Linked DNA regions of Homo sapiens. Changing the gene in region 3 together with the main gene of any one other region gives a genetic interaction. Each region holds a gene or a part of one and is shown on either strand. Other genes may lie near its edges. The genes, in order: OR52W1, SCAF8, ELOF1, AAAS, LMNB1, LMNA and PHF2.

What was found.
Region 1: changes in ELOF1 (region 3) and OR52W1 together harm fitness more than expected from each alone (negative genetic interaction), as found in Homo sapiens cells (one large-scale study listed by BioGRID).
Region 2: changes in ELOF1 (region 3) and SCAF8 together harm fitness more than expected from each alone (negative genetic interaction), as found in Homo sapiens cells (one large-scale study listed by BioGRID).
Region 4: changes in ELOF1 (region 3) and AAAS together harm fitness more than expected from each alone (negative genetic interaction), as found in Homo sapiens cells (one large-scale study listed by BioGRID).
Region 5: changes in ELOF1 (region 3) and LMNB1 together harm fitness more than expected from each alone (negative genetic interaction), as found in Homo sapiens cells (one large-scale study listed by BioGRID).
Region 6: changes in ELOF1 (region 3) and LMNA together harm fitness more than expected from each alone (negative genetic interaction), as found in Homo sapiens cells (one large-scale study listed by BioGRID).
Region 7: changes in ELOF1 (region 3) and PHF2 together harm fitness more than expected from each alone (negative genetic interaction), as found in Homo sapiens cells (one large-scale study listed by BioGRID).

The regions. Positions count from the first base shown.
Region 1 is NC_000011.10:6,197,839-6,201,109, reverse strand, and holds OR52W1 (olfactory receptor 52W1), read right to left. Parts: upstream 1,887-3,271; coding exon 924-1,886; downstream 1-923. UniProt on the Homo sapiens protein: Odorant receptor.
Region 2 is NC_000006.12:154,799,222-154,803,310, forward strand, and holds part of SCAF8 (SR-related and CTD-associated factor 8), read left to right. Parts: intron 1-2,749; coding exon 2,750-2,926; intron 2,927-4,089. UniProt on the Homo sapiens protein: Anti-terminator protein required to prevent early mRNA termination during transcription. Together with SCAF4, acts by suppressing the use of early, alternative poly(A) sites, thereby preventing the accumulation of non-functional truncated proteins.
Region 3 is NC_000019.10:11,556,259-11,560,879, reverse strand, and holds the start of ELOF1 (transcription elongation factor 1 homolog), read left to right. Parts: upstream 1-1,649; 5' UTR 1,650-1,689; intron 1,690-4,621. UniProt on the Homo sapiens protein: Factor involved in transcription-coupled nucleotide excision repair (TC-NER), a mechanism that rapidly removes RNA polymerase II-blocking lesions from the transcribed strand of active genes.
Region 4 is NC_000012.12:53,314,882-53,318,970, forward strand, and holds part of AAAS (aladin), read right to left. Parts: intron 902-4,089; coding exon 846-901; intron 546-845; coding exon 454-545; intron 260-453; coding exon 213-259; intron 1-212. UniProt on the Homo sapiens protein: Plays a role in the normal development of the peripheral and central nervous system.
Region 5 is NC_000005.10:126,832,428-126,836,516, reverse strand, and holds part of LMNB1 (lamin-B1), read right to left. Parts: intron 3,824-4,089; coding exon 3,716-3,823; intron 295-3,715; coding exon 253-294; 3' UTR 1-252. UniProt on the Homo sapiens protein: Lamins are intermediate filament proteins that assemble into a filamentous meshwork, and which constitute the major components of the nuclear lamina, a fibrous layer on the nucleoplasmic side of the inner nuclear membrane.
Region 6 is NC_000001.11:156,135,211-156,138,710, forward strand, and holds part of LMNA (lamin), read left to right. Parts: coding exon 1-102; intron 103-650; coding exon of another isoform or gene 651-690; coding exon 691-911; intron 912-1,003; coding exon 1,004-1,226; intron 1,227-1,710; coding exon 1,711-1,818; intron 1,819-1,902; coding exon 1,903-2,022; intron 2,023-2,443; coding exon 2,444-2,533; coding exon of another isoform or gene 2,534-2,554; exon of another isoform or gene 2,555-2,656; intron 2,657-3,277; coding exon 3,278-3,500.
Region 7 is NC_000009.12:93,659,707-93,663,795, reverse strand, and holds part of PHF2 (lysine-specific demethylase PHF2), read right to left. Parts: intron 3,605-4,089; coding exon 3,236-3,604; intron 890-3,235; coding exon 770-889; intron 280-769; coding exon 161-279; intron 1-160. UniProt on the Homo sapiens protein: Lysine demethylase that demethylates both histones and non-histone proteins. Enzymatically inactive by itself, and becomes active following phosphorylation by PKA: forms a complex with ARID5B and mediates demethylation of methylated ARID5B.

The DNA.
Region 1 (3,271 bases), on a different chromosome or scaffold from region 3:
CAGAAGTGTGAAATGTTTCATTTCATCATATTGCACTAACATCATGTGCTTCTAATGATGTTGGCCAAGACAAATGGGGGTGCCTATGGGGATTTTATCTGGGGATTATACCTTCTTGTTGAGGGTGCACAGAAGGGCAGATTGACAAGAAACCATAGTAATTCAGCCTCAGGCAATCAGATGATGTGGCTGCAGTGATTTTCTGGGATATCAACATTTCTTTCAGTGGACCCCTGACCTCTGCAGCTGCAGTCACAGGGGAAGAAGTTACAGCTGTTAATTTTGGGGGCTTTGGTGGGAGTTGGGGGAAGGAAGAATAGTAATTACACATGAGACCAAAAGAGGATTCTTTGAATTTGAAGTGGCCAAATTGGTACCACAGGGCACATTATTTAGTTTATCGGAAGGCAGGAGATGAGCCTGTAGAACTCGTTTCCTGAGGGCAGTCTGAAAACAGAATCTGGCTCCAGGAGTAGAGAGGGCTGTGATTTCAGACGGGTGCCCAAGCACTTGACTCCAGGGACAGCGCCACCCTCTGCGGCAGTGCCAAGCACTTCCCTCAAGTTTGGGATCTATAGAGGAGCTTTTGTGTGGAAACGTGGGCAGACTTAGGTTGAAATAATGGAGGTGGGGAGCAGGAAAGGGAGTTGTTAGATCTTGTTTATTATGGTCCTTCACTAATTTTTCCTGCATGGTAGTGTAGCCCCCTGACCTCTACCTCCTGCCTCCTCCCAAGCAGAATACATGTTTAAGTCAAAGTCTACAGATGCCAGTGTTGCACATAGGGACTCCACAGCAAGTACCTGTTAAATGATGATAACAGTCATATGCAGTGGGATGAAAATAACATGATCCACACCCCCAGACTCCCCTCCGATTGTCCCCTCACCTCCACTCTTAGGCTCCATTGTTACCACTGGACATTACAACGGGCTTTTTCTGAATGTGAAGGTTTCCAGGAGTCGGTCTCTGATCTGCTTGGTGCGGGCCCCATAGATGAGGGGGTTGAGGGCAGGTGGCAGCAGCAAGTAGATGTTGGAGAGAAGGATGTGCACAGGCTTTGGGACAGTGTGATGACCAAAGCGGTGTGTGAGGTAGGAGAAGAGACCAGGTATGTAGAAGGCCAGAATGACACAGATGTGAGAACTACATGTACCAAAGGCCTTGGCATGGGCCTCCCGGGTAGGTAGCTGCAGCACAGCATGGGCAATGAGTCCATAGGAGCCAGTGATACCCAGAATATCCATACCTGAGATGGCCAGTGAAAGTGCCAGACCATATAAGTTGGTGGCCTGTGTGTTACCCACCACCAGTTCTACCACTGCCATGTGTGCACAATAGGTATGGCCTATGGTCTTGGCTTGGAAGTGCTCAAACTTTGCCACCAGCAGTGGGAAAGGTACAACAATAGCCACAGCTTTCAGTGCCAGGGCCAAGGCTGCATAACCCACACAGGCTTTGGTGACCAGGACAGGGTAGTGCAGTGGACGCCCTATTGCCGCAGCACGATCACAGGCCATGGCCAAAAGCACACCTGATTCCATGGCAGTCAGTGCATGTACAAAGAACATCTGGACCAGGCACACAGCATATGGCACAGATCGGGGCCCAAGCCACAGCACAGCCAGCAACCCTGGGGCTATAGATGTGGCTAAGCCCAGGTCTGTGGCTGCCAGGATGGCCAACAGTAGAAACATGGGCTGGTGCAGTGTGGAGTCTATCCACACCACTGCCGGCAGTGCTCCATTGCCCAGCAGGGCCAGCAGATAAATGGGCCCAAAGACCAGTGTCAGCCAAGTCTGGGCACTTCCTAGCCCTGGAAAGCCAGTCAGTATGAAGAAGTTTGGGTGTAGGAAGGTGGAATTGAGTTGTAGAGTTTCTGCCATTCTGTGGTGGGCACAACTTGAGGGCTCATGGGGGCATGACTCCTGACAGGGAAGATAAGGGGAGAGATTTTGGGGGTCTCACAGTGGCACAAACCCATCCATGGCATACGTGTAGGAGTAGTGCAGGGCTGGGAGGATCACAGGTTTATAACTTTTGGTTAGGGGGGTTTGGATGGATAATTAAGGTCGCAATTCTAGCTAAGATAGGAGAATCCTTTGCTCCTAAAAGTCTATATGTATTGTAGTGGGAGGAAGGGGTAGTGAGGAAGAGGCTGCCTGCTGCAGTGGTTGGTATAGATAGCCTGAGAGAGCCTTCTAATTGGATGTCAGCAGAGGGTGGAGTGGAGATGAATACTTTTCTTCCTCAGGGTCCAAATAGAGTCAGTCTCAGTCTCTATATGAGGAGAAAGCCAGTGCTGGGGGCAGGGTGGGGAATCAGGCTTCCGGCTGTCCTGTCCCTGCCTGTGTATCCTTGGGCAAGATCTCTGGACCTCAGCTTCTTCAGCTGTATAGGCCTGGTGGGTACAGTGATATTAAGGTTTGCCCAGCTCTGAGCAATTGCCCATTCTCAGCACCAACCATCCAGGAAGAGAGGAGGCAGAGTATAAAGAAAGGGAGAAACCGTAGTGGGAGGCAGATGGAATCTGGAGTGAATCTGGGAGCTTGGTGTGGCAAGGGAAAACTTGCTGGGTTTTTGGGGTGCAGGGTGCTTACGTTCTGAACTTGATGCTGAACACCAGCTGGAGAGTTGAAGTTGGGGCTGGGAAGCAACAGAGAGAGAGATGGCAGTACGAAACGGGACTTTTCTTCTCCGTTTCCTTTCCTTCTTCACGGTACAAAAGTGGGTCCCACTAGAGTCTCATTCCTGGCATGCCAGAGCGAGTGGAGGTGACATAGAGGGAGAAAATGGCACTCAACTCAGAGTAGCAGCCATCTGAGGAAGAAGCATCTCTGACATTGGAGGAGGCAGGACAAGTAGATTGACTTAGGTGGGATCCAGCCCACCTAAGAAGCTTAATACATGTTGAATGGATAAATGAATGAGGAAGAAATCACCAGCAGAAGGCTTGACTGGGAAAGATCTCGAGCACTGTGTGTTGGCAGCTTCTCTTCGCTTTAATCAGTGCCTGTGGGGCTCTTTATGTGGCTGTTCTACCTGCTTCCCTCAGGGCCTTTCTCCCTCCCACCTGTGCCACATTAACTCTGTTTTGTATCTCTTTGCTCAGTGCTGATGGGCTGGTGACTCAGGAAGTAGAGTAAGGAGGCAGAGATGGGGGCAAGCCAGGAAAGAGACTATCAGGTGGAAAGATCTGGGCAAGGAACACTTTCTCAGGGAGGTCTTTGCTGGCTCACTGAAGTCCGGGAGAAAATTCCTTGGTTTATTC
Region 2 (4,089 bases), on a different chromosome or scaffold from region 3:
CCCACGTCAGCCTCCCAAAGTGCTGGAATTACAGGCATGAGCCACCGTGCCTGGCCAATTTTTTATTTTTATATAGAGACAGGATGTCACTATGTTGCCCAGGCTGGTCTCAGACTCCTGGCCTCAAGCAGTCCTTTCACCTGCGCCTCCCAAGTCAATGGAATTACAGGCACAAGCCATCGTGCCTGCACTAAAATCCCAAGTTTCAGCAGTCACTTCATTGGTCCTTGTATGTTCTCAGTTTGACCTATTGTTCCCTTCCCAACATTTTCTATCACCAGTTCATAGACTTCTCTAACTAATGATAAGACTTGCTTATGTTGCCCACCCCCAACCCTGGTTTTATATTATCCTTTGCTTTGCTTTCTCACCTCTTTCTCCTGTAACTTGTTCCATCCTTTTTGTTGTTTCTTAAATAAACTACCTATAATCCTGCCCCAAGATCTCTGCTTTTGAAGTTTTTTATACTGAAAACCCACTTCCCTCATATATTCATATGGTTTCATCTCTTGTCTTTGTTTAAATGTCACTTTAATAAGGCCTTCAGTGACTGCTATTTATTTATTTATTTATTTATTTAGAGACAGGGTCTTGCTCTGTCACCCAGGCTGGAGTGTAATTGGCGCAATCTCGGCTCATTGCAACCTTGGCCTCCCGGGTTCAAGCAATTCTCTTGCCTCAGCCTCCTGAGTAGCTGGGATTACAGGCTTCTGCTACCACACCCAGCTAATTTTTGTATTTTTTAGTAGAGACAAGGTTTCACCTTGTTGGCCAGGCTGGTCTCAAACTCCTGACTTTAAGTGATCCGCCCGCCTCGGCCTTCCAAAGTACTGGGATTATAGACATGAGCCACCGCACCTGGCCGTGACTGCTATTTAAAACTGTAAACTCTTACCTGTCATTGTTTACACTCCCGTTCTCTCTCGCCTCTGCTTACTTCCTTCCTTAGCACTTACTACCTTCTGTTATGTTATATAATTACTTGGTTTTTTTTCTACCTCTTCCCACTGGAATGTATGCTAAACTAGGGCAAGAATTTTTTGTGGTTGTTGACAGCTGCCTGTCCAATGTCTAGGTTGTAGATGGTGTTCAATATGTTTTTGTGGAATGAATGAATGATGTACAAAAGCATTACAGTGTTGGAGATACAAAGGATATTGTAGAGTTGAGTTGTTTGAAGGAAAAGATAGTCTGTGTAAGCTATTAATGACAAAGTTAAATGGCAGACTTAAGTGTGACCTGGGCTGTGAAAACTATAAATGGTGGGCTCAGAAATAAAAGGTTTCATTTGCTAAGCAATGGGGAATCACCAGGGACTTTTTAATGTTGAAGTCACATGATCTTAACAGTACTTTACATGGATTAGAGAGAGGAGAAGTCTAGAGACAGAATATCTTTCTTTTGGTAGTAGTGGTTTTGGAAAGGAGGGTAATGATTATGAAAAATAGTAAGGTTGTATACTTTCTGAAAATACAATAGAAAACATGGGGCCATTCTAGACTTAAAAATATTTTAAAAAACCGATGTGTACTCTTAGGTTGAATCTATTTTCTACATTTTTGAGACAGTTGGGAAACTGAATATTAGCTGTATATTAGGTGAAATTATAGAATTAGTAATTTTATTTTGTGGTAATATTTTGGAAACAATTCATAAAGCAAGTGTTCTTATTTTAAAAGATGCCTATTAAAATAAATATTTTTGACAGAAGAAACTTTGAAAGGGATAGTACAAACAGAGTCAGTAAGACAGTAATTGATAGACTGCGAAGTCAGAGTAGAGGAAGAAAATTGGATGCTCCAGTGGTTTTTTACCTGGGTGACCAAAAGAATAACAGTGCCATGGGAAAAATGGAGATGTCAAAAGGAGCAGTTAAAAAGTGTAAAGGGGAAATACGGTGTTTCTATCATTTTAATAGTTTTATAGAAAATGTTTAGTTGATAGTGAAGTGACTCTAGTTTGTTTCCTAGTGTTACTGTTTTAAGTAGGCATGAAATTACTTTACTGTCATCTTACATAGTTTTTGTGTCCTTTCATCCTAGAAGTTGAACTTCAAGAGTACAGTTGTCTTGGTTATCAGTAGCTTTGCTGTCTTTATTTTTCTCTTTTAAACTAATAATTTTTGGATTTAACTCAGGCTTATAACCAGATTGATTATCATTTATTTCTGGAATGTATATAGGGTTTTCTTATTTATAGAATCTCTTAAAGATCTCACTGTTGTGTCTGTTTTTTAACAGGGGTGGGTACATGGTGGGAACAAGAGTTGCCTTCAACTCTAGATGACACTATTATTAATAACTAGTTGCCAGACTCTACTCTGAGAAACAGATTTCTTAATGACTCTCCAACTTTCAGGAAGTACGTGCTCAGATGGTAATTCTGAATAACAGCAAAAGCTGCTGCTATTTTCAGTACTCGTCCTTTTACTGAGTTTAAAGAGTTAATTGAACAAGGTAGAGAAATTTAGTGAAAAAGGTGTCAGCTTGTGATGAGCGCTTTATCTGGTTGTCACAGATCACTTTATTTTGTTTAAAGTTCGCTGACTTTCCAGAAGTAAGACAAACTTATTAAGGACTGTGTTATATAAGGTACACAGAAAAACTTCAAAAAATTAACTTATTAATAGTGTGTATTTTTTTCAAAGAGAGTGTGGAATGATTAATTTTACTGACTAAAAGTTTTAGGTGGCCACTCTTACAGAAAAAACCCAACACCTGTTTTGTAATATATATTTTTTTCTCTCCAGCTTCAACAATTAATACAAACCTTACAGATACAACAACAGAAGCCCCAGCCTTCCATTCTGCAGGCCCTAGATGCTGGTCTTGTTGTTCAGTTGCAAGCTCTTACGGCACAACTTACAGCTGCAGCTGCAGCTGCCAACACTCTTACTCCCTTAGAACAGGGAGTCTCCTTTAACAAGGTAGAAATTAAAATATCGGATCAAGTCTATATGAATTATTAAATATTATATACTATCATGGATTTTAATTCTATAAATAAATTTTATTGTAGACTTTCAGTATCTCCTGTACACTGTATAAGACAGTCTGAATTTTACAAAAGGTTCAAACTTCTGAAAAAAATTAAGTAATTAAAAAAATTTTTCCTAGGCCAGGCACAGTGGCTCACACCTATAATCCCCAGCACTTTGGGGGAGCGCAAGGCAGGCAGATCACTTAAGGCCAGGAGTTTGAGACCAGCCTGGCAAACATGGTGAAACCCCATCTCTATTAAAAATACAAAAATTAGCCAGATGATGCGTGCCTGTAATCCCAGCTACTGGGGAGGCTGAGGAAGGAGAATTGCTTGTACCTGGGAGGTAGAGGTTGCAGTGAGCCAAGATTGAGCAACTGTTCTCCAGCCTGGGTGACAGAGAAAGACTCTTGACTCAAAAAAAAAAAATTTTTTTTGAAACATTTTTGAAACATTTAAAATATTTTCATTTGACTAAAAATAACTAGTCAGTAAAATCTTGTATTCACCACTGAGGCAAGTGATTACTTTCTGAGCTTGTCTGATTTCTTTCATGGGTGCCACATTTTACTGTGATGCTCTGGGTTCTGTAATTTGGACCTGCAAAAATTAAAATTCTTTAATCAATATGTAAAATGTTTAAAGGAAACTTCTCTACAACTAGTCACTATACTGTAACTATAATAAGTTGATGCCTAAATTATTAATAATTAAAGTGTTTCTAAAACTTAAAATCTTTCATGTACAATTTAGTGTGTGATATTCTTAGTATGCTTATTAATTATGGGAATATCATACTACTTGGAAGTGGTGTTCATATTTTTAAAATTTGTACTTTTTATAGGAAAGTAGATACTGATTTATTGGATTATTACTTAGACTGTTTTGGCCAGCAGCTTCTAAGTCTAATATAGTCTAACACTAAATAGCTAGACCACATAAAAAGCCTTTAAATTGAGCATTCAGAAGAATAACAGCATTCTAAGATGAGAACCATATTAGGAATAGATCCATTGAATATGGCCCTAGATGTTTTATCAAGCTTATTACCATGGAAAAACCACCTAATTATTTTAATTCTTAGTCTTCTGTAAAATTTGAGTATTAGTG
Region 3 (4,621 bases):
TATAGATGGTTAAGTGGAAATAGCAAGTTGCACGGTAACTGTATAGTATGATTCCATCCTGTGTGTATTCTAGTTTGCTCCAGCACTGAAAAAGGGTCTCACAAGAGGGCAGTTCTACTGGTTACACTTGACGGTTACCAGGGTAACACTGCCCCCTAGGGGATATCCTAGAGATCCCTCTACAGACAGCCCCTGACTTGATTATGATAGGTTTATCGGGATGTAACCCCATCGTAAATCAAAGAGCATCTGTATTCGAAATACATTTCATTACAAATTATCTTCCTGAACACTCTAATGCAACAGCTCTTATCAAGGTCCGCAGGGACCAGACCCTTGCCAAACTCAACTGTCAATTCTCTTTCCTCATCTTCTTCAACTCAGGGACACGTGACACAGCTAACCCCTCTCTCTCTCCATCTTGAAATATCTTTTTCAGGCCAGGTGTGGTGGCTCATGCCTGTAATCCCAACAATTTGAGAGGCCGAGGTGGATGGATCACTTGAGGTCAGGAGTTCGAGACCAGCCTGACCAACATGGTGAAACCCCATCTCTACTAAAAATACAAAAATTAGCCAGGCATGGTAGTGCGCACCTGTAATCACAGCTACTTAAGAGGCTGAGGCAGGAGGATCGCTTGAACCCGGGAGGCTAAGGTTGCAGTGAGCCCATATGGCGTCACTGCACTCCAGCCTGGGCGACGGAGCGAAACCCTGTCTCAGAAAAAAACAAAACCAAAAATAAAAACCAATAAAAGTCCTTGGCCGGGCGCGGTGGCTCACGCCTGTAATCCCAGCACTTTGGGAGACCGAGGCGGGTGGATCGCGCCTGTAATCCCAGCACTTTGGGAGGCCGAGGCGGGTGGATCACGAGGTCAGGAGTTCAAGACCAGCCTGGCCAAGATGGTGAGACCCCATCCCTACTCAAAAAAAAAAAAAAAAAAAAAACTACAAAAATTAGCCGGGCGCGGTGACCGGCGCCTGTAATCCCAGCTACTCGGGAGGCTGAGGTAGGAGAATCACTTGAACCTGGGAGGCGGAGGTTGCAGTGGGCCGAAATCGAGCCACTGCACTCCAGCCTGGGCGACAAAGTGAGACTCCGTCTCAAAAAAATAAAATAAAATAAAACAAAAATAAAAAATAAAAATCCTTAACACGGCCCACGAGGCTCCATGGAATCTGGCCCCAGCCTGTCCACTCAACCTCATCTACTACAATCTGGGCACTCAAAATGTGGTCTGCGGATCAGCAGCATGGAAGTCACCTGGGAGCGAGTTAGAACAGCAGCCTCTCAGGCCTCCCTCTTCATCTGCTGGATCAGAACTTGAACTTTTTAGTTTGAGTAGAGCGTCTTCCATGCTTACAAGCTTCCCCTTCACCCTGATTCAGCCATAAGGTTATTTCATATTCCTCACTTGCCGCTCCTGGAAACTGACCAGAAGTACTGGCATCGCGCGTAGGTACAGGCAAATACGCACCGGCTCTTGCGCAGGCGCACTGCGTCTCCGTCGGAGCGCTGCTATTTGAGTACGCGTGCGCTCAGAGGAGCGGCGAAGGAGGCAGGGCCTATTTGCTGGGCTGTCCGGGATGGGGGTGGCCGGGACCTGAAAGTAGGAGAGGGGTTTCCGCTTCCGGCAGGAGTCGGAAGTCACTATCTCCCGGGTGAACGGAGCTTTCGCAGCTGGAGAAGGTGAGTGCTGGTGCGGCTCGTGCGAGTGGGCGTTGGGGGTGGGCAGGACTGGAAGTTCCTCTACTCCGTGCGTTTACGGGGTCCTGGAGGAGGCTCCTGGGACCTCGAGCTTGGGGGAAAGCCGGTCGGGGAGACTGACTCCCCCCGACCCCATCCTTCCAAGCGCGACTACCGGGACGCCTGGCTCCTCCCGGCGGCCGTCGGGAGGCGATGCCGAAGCTTTAGTGAGTCTGGAGGAACAGCCAACCCCCCACCTCTTGGGTACCAGCAGATTCGGGGGATGACTCCTCTGCCATCCCCTTTTGGCGCTCTTGGACTTAACGTTGTCACAGGACAGGCTGAGGCCTCTGCATTCCTTGTGCAAGCCAGACCCCATTCATGGGATGGGGAGACTGTAGTCCCTGGGCAAAATGAGCTTCTGGGGCTCATCCGTAGATTTTGTTTGGACTTTTTTTTTTTTTTTTGAGAGTGAGTCTTGCTGTGTCGCCGAGGCTGGAGTGCAGTGGCGCGATCATAGCTCATTGCAGCCTCGACCTCCTGGGCGCAAGCTTCCCACTTCAGCTTGCCGAGTAGCTGGGACTACAGACTCAAGGCTAATTTTTGTAATTTTGTAGAGATGAAGGGTCTCACTCTGTTTCCCAGGCTGGTCTGGAACTCCTGGCTTCAAGCGATCTTCCCACCTGGGCCTCCCAAAGTGATGAGATTACGGGCGTGACGTCCCAAAGTGATAGAGTTACAAGCAAACTGATTGAGTGATTTATTCAGTAATGGTTATTGCTGGGCACGGTGGCTCATGCTTGTAACGCCAGCACTTTGGGAGGCCGAGGCGGGAGTATCTCTTGAGCCCAGGAGTTCCAGACCAGGCTGGGCAACATGGTGGGTCCCTGTCTCTACAAAAAATACAAAAATTAGCTGGGCGTGGTGCCGCGGCTAATTTATATTTCAGAGGTAGAGGGGCAGGGGGAGGATCGCATAAGGAATGTGTGAGGGAAAAAGACATTGAGGATGAATCCAAGGTTTCTGATTTGATTATCCGGAAAGATGGAATTGCTGTTAGCTGAGATGAGGAAGACTGGAAGAGCAGGTTGCAATGTCAGGGGCTTGGTTTTGGACATGATATGTTTAATCTTAGGTGGAAGTTAGACATCAGGTGGAGGTGTGGCTGAGGCAGATAGATCAGAGTCTGCAGTTCAGACTCAAGGCTGGAGAAGCAGGTGGCCTCAGTGTAGAGTAGGCATGAAGCCCTAAGACTGGGTGAAATCTTCATGTGGTGAGTATAGCCAGAAAGGAGAGGATCCAACAATTAAACTCATGGGCTTTTTGCTCTGTTGCCCAGGCTGGAGTGCCTCGGCTCACTGCAACCTCCGCCTCCCAGGTTCAAGTGATTCTCCTGCCTCAGCCTCCCGAGTAGCTGGGATTACAGGCGTGCACCACCATGCCTGGCTAATTTTTGTATTTTTAGTAGAGATGGGGTTTCACCATGTTGGTCAGGCTGGTCTCGAACTCCTGACCTCGTGATCTGCCCACCTCGGCCTCCCAAAGTGCTGGGATTACAGGCGTGAACCACTGCACTCAGCCTTTTTTTTTTTTTTTTTTAGATGAAGTTTTGCTCTGTTGCCCAGGCTGGAGTGCGGTGGCACAATCTCAGCTCACTGAAACCTCCGACTCCCAGGTTCAAGCGATTCTCCTGCCTCAGCCTCTCTATTAGCTGGGATTACAGGCATGTGCCACCACGCCCAGCTAATTTTTGTATTTTTAGTAGAAATGGGGTTTCACCATGTTGGCCAGGCTGGTCTCCAACTCCTAACCTCAAGTGATCTGCCCACCTTGGCCTCCCAAAGTGCTGGGATTATAAACGTGAGCCACAGCGCCTGGCCCAAACTCACGTGCTCTCTTCATTGGAGCAAGTTGGCAGAGAGGCAGGAGCATAGGAGACTAGCAGGAGCCACCAGTGAGGCAGAGGACAGGGAGCACATGGCATCCTGAGAGCCACATGTGCTCTCAGGGGAGGAAGGACCTCTGGAATGGGAGGACTGCCATTGGGATTTGCAGTATGGAGCCACCAGTAACCTAAGTTTGGAGGCAAGGGGTGCAGAGAGATGGGTGGGAATGCAGATGGCTGTACACTAAAACAGCCTGCAGAGAAAAGGATCATAGCTGGAAGAGGATGAAGAGTTTTTTTTTCCCCCTTTTTAAATGAGGAGAGAGGTAATAACAAGTGTGTGAGAGTGATCCAGTGGAGCTGGAAAATTTGATGTTGCTCAAAGAAAAGGGGATGGGAGCCAGGGCAGAATGAACAAATTGTTTTTGCAGGAACTTACTTCCATAGTAAAGGAGGCATGCCGAAGCTGGGCATGGTGGTGCACACCTGTTGTCCCAGCTACTGAGCAGGCTGAGGCCAGAGGATTGAGGCTTTAGCAAGCTGTGATCATGCCACTGCACTCCAGCCTGGGCAACAGAGCAAGACCTCATCTCTTAGATAAATAAAGAGGGTGGGTGAATGGCTGAATGAGTTGGTCCTAGGAGCTGTCTTTGGATTGCTTCTATTTACTCAGTGAACTGGAAGCATCACAGTTAAGAGTTGGGGGTGTTGGCTGGGCGTGGTGGCTCACGCCTGTAATCCCAGCACTTTGGGAGGCCGAGACAGGCGGATCACGAGGTCAGGAGATCGAGACCATCCTGGCTAACACGGTGAAACCCCATCTCTACTAAAAATACAAAAAATTAGCCACGCGTGGTAGTGCATGCCTGTACTCCCAGCTACTCGGGAGGCTGAGGCAGGAGAATCATTTGAAGCCGGGAGGTGGAGGTTGCAGTGGGTCGAGATCATGCCACTGCACTCCAGCCTGGGCGGCAGAGCAAGACTCCATCTCAAAAAAAAAAGAAAGAGTTGGGGGTATTACATAGGAAGTGATCAGCAGATAATGAATGA
Region 4 (4,089 bases), on a different chromosome or scaffold from region 3:
ACCTATCCCTACCCTAGCCCAGAAGCTCACATTCATTTCCAGTAAGGACATGGTTTTTTCCTACTTTTTCTTGTATTCTTTTTTGGGGGAACAGGAGGAATGAGAATATGGTGAGCAATCAGAAAAGGAGTAGGAGTCTTTGCCTTCTCCCCAAAGGGAGTTTTGAGGTTCAGGACTTCCTTTCCACAAAGCTCCAGGGCTTGTGCACTCACCAATTTGTGACTTGGGCAAATTCAGCGATCAGATCTTCGCTCCTGAGCTGTAAGAACAAGATAGACACAGGACACACTGGGGCAAAAGGAGTCCATCTCCTCAATATTCCAACAGGGGAGCTGGACCACTCCTACCCTCTGAAGTCATCACACCCAACCCTGACCTGCAAGGATAGGAATGAGGGCAGAGTAGGATGGGGACACAGCAAATGCAGAGGGCTGGGGAGGAAGCCAAACTTACAGACAGATGGGGGAACAGGGACCCATGGAGGGAAGAGGCCCATCGACAGAGTGCCAGGGCCCAGCCGGATGCCGTCTTCACCCACTCAAACACTGTAGGGTTGAGGAAGCAGCTCTGATTAAACCATTCACAGGCCTCTTACCAGGTACCTTCTAGGTGAAAGACAAGGAAGGACAGGCACTCCCCAGGTCCTTCTGCCCAGTAAGTGCTCTCAACACCACACTCTGGACACCCACTCTGGACACCCACTCTGGGTTATTTGGGTAGGTAGAGGAGAGGACAGGAAAAATAGGGCTAAAAGAGGCTGAGCCAACAGGTGTCGGGGGTGAGTTCAAGAATATGGAGAGGAGATAACCACAAAACTAGGGAAGGCTGGAGGGAAAAATACTTACCCTCTTCTTCTGAGTTTGCAATTTCATTTAGCACCCCAAAAAGGCCCACATCACGCCTGATAAGGGAGGAAAATGTGGGTCAGCTTACTCTGATCCCCTCTGTCCCTCTCTACCAGTTTCATTCATTCAATATACATGTATTAAAAATATGGGCACTCACATTTAATGAGTGCCAACTATGTACCAGGCACTCTACGGGCTGTCCTTTCATTTACATATCTCACAAATCTGAACGAGATTCTACCCATTTACGGATGAGACAACCAAGGCTCAGAGGACTTTTGGGGCTTTGTGAGCAGGTTAAGGAGTTGGGACTTGCTCTAAGACAATGAATGGAAAGCCATGGAAGGGTTCTAAGGAGAAGAATAAACAGATCACACAGCAGCATTTTAGAAAGAGCAGTCTGGCTGCAGATTAGAGAGTGATAAGAATAGAAAAGGCCAGGCTGGCTGTGGTGGCTCACGCCTATAATCCCAGCACTTTGGGAGGCTGAGGTGGGTGGATCACGAGGTCAGGAAACTGAGACCATCCTGGCCAACATGGTAAAACCCCGTCTCTACTAAAAATGCAGAAATTAGCCAGGTGTGGTGGTGCGTACCTGTAGTCCCAGCTACTCAGGAGGCTGAGGCAGGGCAGGAGAATCACTTGAACCCAGGAAGCGGAGGCTGCAGTAAGCCGAGATTGTGCCACTGCACTCCAGCCTGGGCGACAGAGTGAGACTCTGCCTCAAAAAAGAAGAAAAAAAAAAAAGAATAGAAAAGGCCAGGCGCGGTGGCTCACACCTGTAATCACAGCACTTTGGGAGGCCAAGGTGGGCGGATCACGAGGTCAGGAGATCAAGACCATCCTGGCCAACATGGTGAAACATGTTGAAAAATATGAAAATTAGCCAGGTGTGGTGGTCCATGCCTATAATCCCAGCTACTCCATAGGCTGAGGCAGGAGAATCGCCTGAACCCGGGAGGTGGCGATTGCAGTGAGCCAACATCGTGCCACCACACTCCAGCCTGGGCAACAGAGCAAGACTCCATCTCAGACAAAAAAAAAAAAAAAAAAAAAGAAGAGAAAAAATAGAAAAAGTCCAGGTGCAGTGGCTCAACCCTAGCACTTTGGGAGGCCAAGGCAGGTGGATCGCCTGAGCTCAAGAGCTTGAGACCAGCCTAGGCAACATAGGGAAATGCTGTCTCTACAAAAAAAAATACAAAACTTAGGCAGGTGTGGTGGCACATGCCTGTAGTCCCAGCTACTTGGGAGGCTGAGGAAGGAGCATCACTTGAGCCCTGGGGGCTGACAATGCAGTGAGCCGTGTTCCATGTTTGCGCCACTGCACTCCACACTGGGCAACAGAGCAAGATGCTGTCTCAAAAAATAATAATAATAATAGAGAAAAATAAATCAGTTAAGAATCTACTTCAGGGCCGGGTGCGGTGGCTCACACCTGTAATCCCAGCACGCTGGGAGGCCAAGGCAGGTGGATCACGAGGTCAGGAGTTCGAGACCAGCCTGGTCAAGATGGTGAAACCTCATCTCTATTAAAAATACAAAAATTGGCCAGGTGCGGTGGCTCACACCTGTAATCCCAGCACTTTGGGAGGCTGAGGCGGGCGGATCACAAGGTCAAGAGATCAAGACCATCCTGGCTAACACGGTGAAACCCCATCTCTACTAAAAATACAAAAAATTAGCCAGGTGTGGTGGTGGGCGCCTGTAGTCCCAGCTACTCGGGAGGCTGAGGCACGAGAATGGAGTGAACTCGGGAGGCGAAGCTTGCAGTGAGCCGAGATCGTGCCACTGCACTCCAGCCTGGGCAACAGAGCGAGACTCCGTCTCAAAAAAAAAAAACCAAAAAAATAAAACAAAACAAAAATTAACCAGGCGTGGTGGTGTGCACCTGTAGTCCCAGCTACTCAGAGGCTGAGGCAGAAGAATTGCTTGAACCCAGGAGGCGGAGGTTGCAGCGAGCTGAGATCACGCCACTGCACTCCAGCCTGGGTGACAAAGTGAGACTCTGTCTCAAAAAAAAAAAAAGAATCTACTTCAGGAACCTAGGAAAAAGGTGAAAGTGGCCTGAACTGGTGGGGATGAAGAAAAAGAGACAGATTTGAGAGATTTAGGAATTAGCATAAACAAGATGTGAAGACTAATCAGACATTAGTAAAGGAAAGAGCAATACAACAGAAACACCTAGGTAATAATTACATCAGCTAATATGCTTACAATGTGCCAGCTCTGGACTAGGTGCCTCACATTAACTAATCAAGCCATTATGACAATCCTACAAGATAGGTATTGTTATCACTGCATTTATTTTTATTTTATTGAGACAGGGTCTTGCTCTGTGACCCAGGCTGGAGTGCAATATCACCATCACGGCTCGCTGCAGCCTCAATCTCCTGAGCTCAGGTATTCTTGCCTCGGCCTCCCGAGGAGCTGAGACTACGGGTGCACACCATCATGCCCAGCTAATTTTTAAATTTTTTGTAGAGATGGGGTTTCAGTGTGTGTGTGTGTGTGTGTGCGTGTGTGTGTGTGTGTGTGTGTGTGTGTTAAGACGGAGTCTCACTCTGTCACCCAGGCTGGAGTGCAGTGGTGTGAACTCGGCTCACTGCAACCTCTACCTCCTGGGTGCAAGCAATTCTTGCACCTCAGCCTCCTGAGTAATTAGGATTACACACGGAGTTTCACCACATTGGCCAGGCTGGTCTCGAACTCCTGACCTCAAGTGATACACCCGCCTTGGCCTCCCAAAGTGCTGGGATTACAGGCATGAGCTTCCGCGCCCAGACTATCACTGCATTTTTAGATGAGAGAACAAAGGTGTGAAGAGGCTAATTAATATGAACAAGGTAATCTAAGTAGAAAGTAGCAGTCAGGATTCAACCATCTATCTACCCCAGAACCTATACTCAAACCACTTTTTCCTGAATGAGTAATATGATCATTCCTTAAAGTGAACCATCCAGAGAAGCAGATTTGGAGAGAGAAATAAAGAGACTGGATTTGAGCATGCTGAATATATGAAGTCTGCGAAATATTCAAGCAGGATAATTTGGCAAACACGTGAACACCAGGTCTGATGCATCAACTGGAAATCTAGCCCCAAGAACACCAACATTTAAGGGACATCAGGAAGAGGAGCCACCAAAAACCCTGAGAAGCAGCAGCCACAGAAGTAGGAGACAAGGAGCCTGGGAATGAATGGCTTTTCAACAAACTGATATTCAACTTCACACACACAGGCATG
Region 5 (4,089 bases), on a different chromosome or scaffold from region 3:
AGGAACCCCTTCCGAACAGTACACAGTTATTAAGTTCAGTGTCAATAATTCACATCTTGCAACAAAGTGTATGGACATGATTTCTTTTACAAAACTTTCAGTGTCAAAAAGGAAATTAAGGCCATCAGATTTGCAGCTTAAAAATTCACATAAAGGAAATATAAAAATATTCTGTGCTTCTGAGAAGGCTCTGCACTGTATACAGGTAAAGATTACCATACTTCTTTATTTTGAGGAAGACAGTTGAAAATTTTACATAATTGCACAGCTTCTATTGGATGCTCTTGGGGTTCCCTGATGAGGAAAACAGAAGGAAAAATTAATACTAAAGAAATAGATCACAGTATTCTAAAATAAGACAAAAACTTTTAACTACAGGGATACCAAACCATATTACCTAACCTCAAATGGACCCTTTATCATCTCTCATCTTTTCTAACCTTTTCTTTTTTTCTTTTTCTTTGTTTGTTTGAGATAGAGTCTCACTCTGTTGCCCAGGCTGGAGTGCAGTGGTGCAATCTTGGCTCACTGCAACCTCTACCTCCTGGGTTCAAGCGATTCTCATGCCTCAGCCTCCCGAGCAGCTGCGACTACAGGTGTGCATCACCACCACGTTAGCCAGGCTGGTCTTGAACTCCTGGCCTCAAGTGATCCACCTGCCCTTGGCCTCCCAAAGTGCTGGGATTACAGGCGTGAGCCACCGTATCTGGCCTCTAACCTTCTTTTATGGACTTCTTTCTAGAATACCCCCCAACAAATTCCAGAACAGTAATTGTCAACTCTGGCTACACATTCAGATCCTGAGGAGTTTAAAACAAATTCTGATCTAGGTCCCTTGATCAATCAAATAAGAATTTCTCATTTTACTGGGAAAGGGTAGCTATCTATATATAATTTTAAAGTAATTCTAATGTGCAGCTCAATTTGAAAACCATTGTTCAATAACCTCTTTTGATAACTTAGGAAATAGGAGATCAGTGGATCAGCTTTTAACAACCACATCGGAGACTACAGCTTGCTAGATCCTGAACTTACACATCCCAAGCCATCTGCAGTGGATTTGTCCTCCAAGGTGAAGTCAACATGGCTCCTCTACCCATTTCTTTATCACTCATTAATTTCATATAACCTCACAATATGACTTGTGACTCACCACTGATTGAACTAAAACTGGTTTTTTGAAGGTCACCAAAATATTTCTAATCAATTCAAAAGGCGATTGGATTCATCCTCAAATATGAAGTTCAAACGCCTGTTCTGCCCTTCCATCTTCCCTCTTATGAACCTTGGTATCATTAGTTTCTGTGATCACAAAAGCTAAAAACCTCATACATCTTTATTTTTTTTCTTCTCTCACCCTCAAGTTTAGTCACTAAGCCTTAATAAATTTCCATTATATATTCCCTCACTGCCTCTGGAATCTCCTCTCTAGAGTTAGTCCCTCTGATTCAGCTTGGCCAGTGATATTTTAAAATGCAGTCTTAACTTCTCCTTTGTTCCAAATTGTACAGAAGCTACATCCCTAAGCATTCCAGACTATGTCAGTTTAATTCCAATCTTTCAACTTCATTTAACTCTCACATGAACCCTACAAAATAACTGGATGAGCGGATATAGTTGGTGCATTAAGTCTTTTTTTATGAGGCAGAGTCTCACTCTGTCACCCAAGCTGGAGTGCAGTGGCGCCATCTCAGCTCACTGCAAGCTCCGCCTCCCGGGTTCACGCCATTCTCCTGCCTCAGCCTCCCGAGTAGCTGGGACTACAGGCTCCCGCCACCACGCCCGGCTAATTTTTTGTATTTTTAGTAGAGACGGGGTTTCACCGTGTTAGCCAGGATGGTCTCGATCTCCTGACCTTGTGATCTGCCTGCCTCCCAAACTGCTGGGATTACAGGCGTAAGCCACCGTGCCCGGCCACATTCTTTACACATCCTCTGTAGTGAGTTAAAGATCACCATGAATTCTTTGCCATTCCTCCCACCAACAGGTGGAGACTATTTACCCCCACTTTGAATCTGGACTGGCCTCATGACTTTGACTAAGAGAATGTTACAAAGGGCCCTTTAAGAAACCTGGTACTCTCTTGAGATTGAGATTGTCGTGGCCAACATGGTGAAACTCCATCTCTACTACAATATAAAAAATTAGCCAGGCGTGGTGGCGCATGCCTGTAATCCCAGCTACTTGGGAGACTGAGGCAGGGGTATCTCTTGAACCTGGGAGGTGGAGGTTGCGGTGAGCTGAGATTGCGCCACTGCGCTCCAGCCTGGCGACACAGCAAGACTCTATCTCAAAAAAAAAAAAGAAAAAAGAAAGAAACCTGTACCCTCCACTTACTCTGTTAGACAATTGCCATGCTATAAAGCTTTGACTAAACTCTTAAATCATAGAAATCCACACAGAAAGAGACCTAAAAGATATTCCAGCCGAGGCCAACCTCTGAGCTGAACACAGCCTGCTCGATTGAGTTCAGTCTGCAGCATGTGGAACAGAAACACTGCCCAGCTGAGCCCAGTCAAACCACAGAATTATGGGAAGTAAGAAATCACTGTTTTAAGCCACTAAGCTTTGGGGTGGTCTGTTAGTGAAGCAATGGTGAATTCCAACATCCTCAGAGCACCATCATCTGCCTTCTCTCCAATAACCAAATAATCACCCATCCTTCAAATTAGTGGACAAGCATCACCTCACAGAGTTCTTCTCAACTACTCTGCTGGCCTGGAGTACCTCCTCTAGCATCTGACATGCTATATAACTCATGCTGACCCTCTTGTCTGGTGCCTTGAGTTATCTCTTACATAATTATTTTACTTCTAGTAATTACGATGGTTCCCATTGAAGCACAGAAAATGGAACTTGTGCTTGTTTCTTGTAAGTTAAGTGTAACATATGTGTTTTAAAATATTCCTCCAAAATGTATGAGAAGGCATCCAGGTAAAAAATTCATGCTACTTCATGCAACCCACCTCAAGTGGTTCTCAACCCTGGGGGTTAAATATATGAGACAGTGTTTATTTAGACCAGGACTAGGGCTAATGAAGCAAAGCAGACTTAAGACTAAAAATCTGGAGCCATGGAAACAAAGTCTTATCAGGATAAGGGTAGACACTTTGATTAATGATCGGACTCAAACAGCTTGAGAATATAAACTGAAGGCTCATTAGTTATTAATAATTCCAATTTAATTATAATTAAAACCAAATTTGGAGTTTCTTTATTTCAAGGGCTCTCAAAAGCCCAACCATCAGCCAAAATCTATCTTCAATTAGATAATGATTAGGAACTTAATACAGCAAGAATTTTGTTTCACACTGAAGTTGAATATTACTTTGTTTTTTTAAAGTTTATATGCAGATTCTTGCTCTAAATTAGTGATCTAAACCTTTTAATCATAGGACCCTACAGAGTAAACAAGTTTGGAGTAAACATCCAATCCATAGACATGTTTTACTGTAACACATAATGCACATTAGAAAACAAAGGACAAAACTGAAACTTGGTACAATGAGAAAAAATAAAAATAAAAGTGCCAACATATTCTTCCAGTACCCTAAAGTATCACCTTGAATATCCCTTTGGGGAGTACAAACCCCACTTGGTAGATAACTGCGCTGGTTCATCAACTGATAGGGGAAAAACCCAACCACACTCTTGGTCTTCATGTAATTCTGTGAATAAAATTTGAAATAAATATATTAAATAAATAAAGTAATACCTGCTGGTGGAAAAGTTCTTCCTCAACAACCACTCCAGCTGCTTCTTCCTCCTCCTCCTCTTCTTCAGGTATGGTTGTTTTAAAGACTGTACTTCTTTGAGCAACCTCCTAAAAACAATAGTAGTTTAAGTTAAAAAACACACTTAAAATCACCAAATGCGGGGGAGAGGGACCTTTTCTTTGCTTAAGAGACAGCATTTCTTGCCAGGCGCAGTGGCTCACACCTGTAATCCCAGCACTTTGGGAGGCCAAGGCAGGCAGATCACCCGAGGTCAGGAGTTAGAGACCAGCCTGACCAACATGGTGAAACCCCGTCTCTACTAAAAATACAAAAATTAGCTGGCCATGATGGCACGTGCCTGTAATCCCAGCTA
Region 6 (3,500 bases), on a different chromosome or scaffold from region 3:
GAGAGGAACAGCAACCTGGTGGGGGCTGCCCACGAGGAGCTGCAGCAGTCGCGCATCCGCATCGACAGCCTCTCTGCCCAGCTCAGCCAGCTCCAGAAGCAGGTGATACCCCACCTCACCCCTCTCTCCAGGGGCCTAGAGTCTGGGCCGGATGCAGGCTGGAAGCCCAGGGTTGGGGGTGGGGGTGGGGGTGGGAGGTTCCTGAGGAGGAGAGGGATGAAAAGTGTCCCCACAACCACAGAGAAGGGTCGCAGGATGTGGAGTCAGATGGCCTGTGTGCTGTTTCTGTACACTCTTACCTCACCTTCACTTCTCAGGGCTTTGGTTTTCCCATTCGAAAATGGAGGCTGTTCTTAATCTCCCTAACTCAGAGTTGCCACAGGACTCTGCAATGTGAGGTGTTAAAAGCATCAGTATTTTTCTAGTTGGCTGTGCTATTTGTGACAGGAGAAAAAGTCTAGCCTCAGAACGAGAGGTTTCAGTTAGACAAGGGGAAGGACTTCCCAGTTGCCAGCCAAGACTATGTTTAGAGCTTGTGATGTTCAGAGCTGGCTCTGATGAGGGCTCTGGGGAAGCTCTGATTGCAGATCCTGGAGAGAGTAGCCAGGTGTCTCCTACACCGACCCACGTCCCTCCTTCCCCATACTTAGGGCCCTTGGGAGCTCACCAAACCCTCCCACCCCCCTTCAGCTGGCAGCCAAGGAGGCGAAGCTTCGAGACCTGGAGGACTCACTGGCCCGTGAGCGGGACACCAGCCGGCGGCTGCTGGCGGAAAAGGAGCGGGAGATGGCCGAGATGCGGGCAAGGATGCAGCAGCAGCTGGACGAGTACCAGGAGCTTCTGGACATCAAGCTGGCCCTGGACATGGAGATCCACGCCTACCGCAAGCTCTTGGAGGGCGAGGAGGAGAGGTGGGCTGGGGAGACGTCGGGGAGGTGCTGGCAGTGTCCTCTGGCCGGCAACTGGCCTTGACTAGACCCCCACTTGGTCTCCCTCTCCCCAGGCTACGCCTGTCCCCCAGCCCTACCTCGCAGCGCAGCCGTGGCCGTGCTTCCTCTCACTCATCCCAGACACAGGGTGGGGGCAGCGTCACCAAAAAGCGCAAACTGGAGTCCACTGAGAGCCGCAGCAGCTTCTCACAGCACGCACGCACTAGCGGGCGCGTGGCCGTGGAGGAGGTGGATGAGGAGGGCAAGTTTGTCCGGCTGCGCAACAAGTCCAATGAGGTAGGCTCCTGCTCAGGGTCTAAGGGGATACAGCTGCATCAGGGAGAGAGTGGCAAGACAGAAGGATGGCATGTGGAGAGAGGAACATCCTTGCCCTCAGAGGGTGGACCAGGGTGAGCCTGTATATCTCCTCCACACTCTGGTTCCAGGCCTGGCTCCTGGACTCTTTGGCTGTGAGACCTTGAGCAGGTTATTTAACCTCTCAGAGCATCAGTTTCCTCATCTGTAAAATGGGGATGAATACTGATCCCTAAGTCTTTGAGTTGTCAGGAAGATGAAAGATAAGGTATCCGTGTGCCTGGTGCTGCGTATGTGTCCACAGATCATGGCTATTATCCCCGGGGGAAGGGCAGTGACAGGGGTGTGTGTAGATGGAAGGAGAGGCCTCAATTGCAGGCAGGCAGAGGGCTGGGCCTTTGAGCAAGATACACCCAAGAGCCTGGGTGAGCCTCCCCGACCTTCCTCTTCCCTATCTTCCCGGCAGGACCAGTCCATGGGCAATTGGCAGATCAAGCGCCAGAATGGAGATGATCCCTTGCTGACTTACCGGTTCCCACCAAAGTTCACCCTGAAGGCTGGGCAGGTGGTGACGGTGAGTGGCAGGGCGCTTGGGACTCTGGGGAGGCCTTGGGTGGCGATGGGAGCGCTGGGGTAAGTGTCCTTTTCTCCTCTCCAGATCTGGGCTGCAGGAGCTGGGGCCACCCACAGCCCCCCTACCGACCTGGTGTGGAAGGCACAGAACACCTGGGGCTGCGGGAACAGCCTGCGTACGGCTCTCATCAACTCCACTGGGGAAGTAAGTAGGCCTGGGCCTGGCTGCTTGCTGGACGAGGCTCCCCCTGATGGCCAACATCGGAGCCAGCTGCCCCCAACCCAAGTTTGCCAATTCAGGGCCCCTTTCTAGAGCTCTCTGTTGCAGGCTCCAGACTTCTCCACCCAGTAGGCAAACCAAAAGATGCTTCCTCAACAGCACAAGGGGTGGAAGTTAGACAGTGAGGATTGTTAAAGGCAGAGCCATACTCCTACCCGGAGAGCTTGACAGTGTCCCTCTGGGGTGGAAATGAGTTCCTTAGCTCCATCACCACAGAGGACAGAGTAAGCAGCAGGCCGGACAAAGGGCAGGCCACAAGAAAAGTTGCAGGTGGTCACTGGGGTAGACATGCTGTACAACCCTTCCCTGGCCCTGACCCTTGGACCTGGTTCCATGTCCCCACCAGGAAGTGGCCATGCGCAAGCTGGTGCGCTCAGTGACTGTGGTTGAGGACGACGAGGATGAGGATGGAGATGACCTGCTCCATCACCACCACGTGAGTGGTAGCCGCCGCTGAGGCCGAGCCTGCACTGGGGCCACCCAGCCAGGCCTGGGGGCAGCCTCTCCCCAGCCTCCCCGTGCCAAAAATCTTTTCATTAAAGAATGTTTTGGAACTTTACTCGCTGGCCTGGCCTTTCTTCTCTCTCCTCCCTATACCTTGAACAGGGAACCCAGGTGTCTGGGTGCCCTACTCTGGTAAGGAAGGGAGTGGGAACTTTCTGATGCCATGGAATATTCCTGTGGGAGCAGTGGACAAGGGTCTGGATTTGTCTTCTGGGAAAGGGAGGGGAGGACAGACGTGGGGCATGCCCGCCCTGCCTCTCTCCCCCATTCTTGTTGCATGCATATCCTCTCATTTCCCTCATTTTTCCTGCAAGAATGTTCTCTCTCATTCCTGACCGCCCCTCCACTCCAATTAATAGTGCATGCCTGCTGCCCTACAAGCTTGCTCCCGTTCTCTCTTCTTTTCCTCTTAAGCTCAGAGTAGCTAGAACAGAGTCAGAGTCACTGCTCTGGTTCTCTGTCCCCAAGTCTTCCTGAGCCTTCTCCCCTTTTATGTCTTCCCTCTCCTCCTCCGGGCCCCTAGCCTCCCAAACCCCCATTGCCCGCTGGCTCCTTGGGCACAGAACCACACCTTCCTGCCTGGCGGCTGGGAGCCTGCAGGAGCCTGGAGCCTGGTTGGGCCTGAGTGGTCAGTCCCAGACTCGCCGTCCCGCCTGAGCCTTGTCTCCCTTCCCAGGGCTCCCACTGCAGCAGCTCGGGGGACCCCGCTGAGTACAACCTGCGCTCGCGCACCGTGCTGTGCGGGACCTGCGGGCAGCCTGCCGACAAGGCATCTGCCAGCGGCTCAGGAGCCCAGGTGGGCGGACCCATCTCCTCTGGCTCTTCTGCCTCCAGTGTCACGGTCACTCGCAGCTACCGCAGTGTGGGGGGCAGTGGGGGTGGCAGCTTCGGGGACAATC
Region 7 (4,089 bases), on a different chromosome or scaffold from region 3:
GTGTGTGATGCAGTGTGTGGTGTGTGTGAGATGCAGAGTGCATGCATAGTGTGTGTGTAATGTGTGTGTGGTATAAGGCAGTGGGTGTGATGCAGTATGTATGGTGTGTGTGATGTCGGTTATGCGCGAGGTCACCCCTCCCATCCAGGCACTCACATACCCGAGGAGTTTCTTGTTGGAGAAAGAAAAAGAGAACTTATTGTCTTTGTTTCCAGCTAGAGGCGACTTCTCTAGCTTCTGCTCCTCTTCCATCTTCAGTAAGGAGTCAGGTTTGCTGTTCTGAAAAGCAAGACCAGGGCCGTCCCTGAGCCCCACACAGAAGTGGGGGGTCAGGACCCCAATTAGTGTCAGTGAGAAGAGGCAGCTACTGGGAACACGACTAAGGAAAGTCACCCATAGCTCTGGTGGCCACCCGGGCCACTGCGGGGTGCTCAGGGGCCTGCACCCCATGGACTCAGTGCCTCGATGTTGCCTGACCCCCATGGAGTGGGAATGAAAACCAGTGTGTGGACCGTGAAGGGAAACACTGTCAACATACAGGGTGTACATTCAACCTCTTGCATCCCAACCAACTCAGAGGAAGATGTAGTCCATGGGTGGTCACACACACCTCAGACCCACGTAAGCACACCCCACAGCACTACCTACTCAGGACAAGCAGACACATGTCTGCACATTCCTTCACACACACAGGGCCTCACAGATTCACCTCTGCTCACACTCACCAAGCTGACACACACACGTGTGCATGCATATGTGCACTTCTCACCTTGTACTTCCACTTGGCCTCTGACTTGCTCTTGGTTTGCTCTCGAATTTCCAGCCTCTCCACATCATTCTGCATGTGAACCACATCTTTGTTGGGCACACTCAGGACACTCTTTGTGGCCTAGAAAAAAGGGCTGCTGTGACCCAGAGGCAGACATAGAGGGCTGGTGGAACTCTCTTGAGCCACAGATTCCCTGTCTTCTTCTGGCCCATGTGCTTGCAGCTCAAGCCTCCATCCATCTACCCATCCACGCATCCATTCACCCACCCATCGATGTACCCATTCACCCACCCATCCATCCATCCATTTATTCATTCATTCGTTCATCCATCCATCCGTTCATTCATCTGCCAACCCATTCATCCATTCATTCATCCCGTTCATTCATCCACCAATCCATCCATCCACTCACCCATTCGTTCATTCATCCATCCATGCACCATGCATTTGTTCATCCATCCATCCATCCATCCATCCATCCATCCATCCATCCGCCCACCCATCCATCCATTCGTTCATCCCATTCATCCACCCACCCATTCATCCATCCACTCATCCATTTATTTATCCATCTACCCATCCATTTATCCATCCATCCATTTTTTCATCTATCCTTCCATCCATCCATCCACTCATCCATTTATCCATCTCCCCATCCACTCATCCATTCATCCATCCATCCATTTGTTCATTCATTAATTCATCCACCCATCCACTCACTCAATCATCCACCCATTCATCCATCTACCCATCCATTCATTTATCCATCGATCAGTCCATTCACCCACCTATCCACCCATCCATTTGTTCATCTATCCATCCATGTATCTGCTCACCCATTCATTCATCCATCCATCTATTCATTCCTCTGTCTATCCATCCATCCATCCATCCATTCATTCATCCATTTATTCATCCACCCACCCATTTGTTCATCCATCCATTCATCCACCCAACCATCCATCCACTCATCCATCCACTCACCATTTGTTGATTCATTCATCATCTACCCATCCATCCATTCATTTATCCACCCATCCATTTGTTTGTTCATCCACCTTTCCATCCATTCATCTATCCATTTATTCATCCATCCATCCATTTTTTCATTCATCTATCCATCTACCCATCCATTCCATCCATCCATCCATTTGCTCATCCATCCATCCATTTATTCATCAATCCATCCATCCACCCAACCATCCAACCATTCTTTCATCTATCCACCCATGCATCCATTCATCTATCCATCTACCCATCCATCTTATGCACTCATCCATCCATCTACCCACTCATCCATCCATCCCTTCATTATTCCATCCATCCATCCATTCATCCATTCATCTACCCATTCATTCATTATTCCATTCATCTACCCACCCATTCATTTATTCGTCCTTCCATCCATCCATCCACCCATTCACCCATCCATCCATTTATTCATCCATCCATCCACCCATCCATCAATTCGTTCATGTAGCCATCTATTCATTCATCTATTCATCCATTCGTTAATCCATTCAACCATCCATCTATCCAGCCATTCACTGATTCATTCATTCATCCATCCGTCTGTTCATCCATTCATCCATCCATTCATCCACCTATTCATTCATTCACCCATTCATCCAGCCATTTAGCCATCCATTCATTTGCTCATGCATTCATTCATGCTTGCCCTGAGAAAGAGAACACAAAAGCGTCCCACTACACCCCTGTGATGCCGGCCCTGAAGTTTCCTGGCCCCCAGGAAGCAGATAACGACCTCCTCCTGGCAGAAACTCACACTCAATGGTGCTTCAGGGGTTCATGGTCCCTGAAGCCCAGACCTAAGATCCTCTAGTCAGAGTGGGTCTTCAGGGCTGGGCCCATCTCTTCACTGTCCACAGGGGCTCAGACTATCAGGGCCACCCTGCTCTTGTCCTCACCCCTGAACCCCCTCCCCTCCAATGGCATTCTCCCTGTTGTTTCTGCACAGACACCTCATCTACCTTCAGGTTTCAACCTCAATGTCTTGGCCCCAGGGAGGACCCAGGGCTTCTTTGTCCCCTGGCAACTGCTCATCTGGCTAGGAAACCTAAACTAGACATCCCCTTCTGGAAAACCACCATGCCTCCTCCACCAGGTGGCCCTCTTGGGTGCCACCTCTGCCACAGCACACACACATTGTGTTGCCTTCCTCAGTGAGGGACCCTCTTCAGGCCCACTGCTCTGTGGCTTGTTGGGCAAAGCCTGTCCACTCTGGGGGGTCTGGGCCTGGATGCTGCAGGACTGGGTCAGGACCAGGCAAGGAAGTGCATCTTCTGGGCATACAAGCCCACAGCAAGAGCCCAGACCCCCACATCTTCTCAGGGGCCCCTGGGGAACAAGGACAATGGGCCCTAGCTATCTCCATGGGACTGGCCCACAAGAGATGCTGCAGCACCTCTGGTGATAAGGTGGGGAGTCAGGGTGAGGGGGTCCCACCTTGCCCTTCTTGGGCGGCTCCATCTTGGTCAGTGCCTCCTTGGTGTGGGCTTCGAGCAGGTCCAGGTTGGGGATGGTGGGTGAGGCTGACTCCCGGGACTTCTTCCCTTTCTTCTTGCCTCCATCTTTGAGCTTCAGCGTTTTGGGGGGCCTTGGGGGCTTAGGGGGCTTCGGGGGCTTGGGGATTTTGGATGGCTTGGGCATCTTCACAGTTTTGGGAGTCTTTTTTTTGGACACTTTCTCCAGGAGGGATTGAGGCGGGGTGGCCTCAATGGGAGACGGGGGCTCCTCCTTCTCCCGGTCCCCGTCACACACCTCATCTGACGAGGCGACAGTATTCACTTCCGGTCGGACGGCTTTGGAGGCATTCTGGGATACAGAAAGGAGAGGGTCACATGCTGCTTCTGCCAAACTGTGGCCCAAGACGGTCCACACACCAGGATGCTGGAGACACTCAGTGCCAGGCTGGCGGGGAACTATCAGCCCAGAAAGGCTCAGCTACCCCACACCATCATGTGACACACTCACACCCAACCCATGCTATTGTGTGACACACTCACACCTGCGACATGCCATGAGTCACTTGCTCTCCCCAAGGCTCTTCTGTCCTACCCCAGCACAGCGGCTGAGGGCTCATCCAGGAACACACAAGCTGGGACTGCAGGGGCTGAGTCAGGGGCTCCTCCCACAGAGTGCCCTCCCCATGGGAGTTTCAGAGAGGCTGGTGCCATTTCTCAGTCCCTACACACTCACACCAGGACACAGACCCAGCCAGAGACCTAGGACCCTGAGCCCTCACAAAGGCAAGCTTGCCCAGGAAAGTGCAAGGAGGACCATCTGGGGCACTGGCCTTC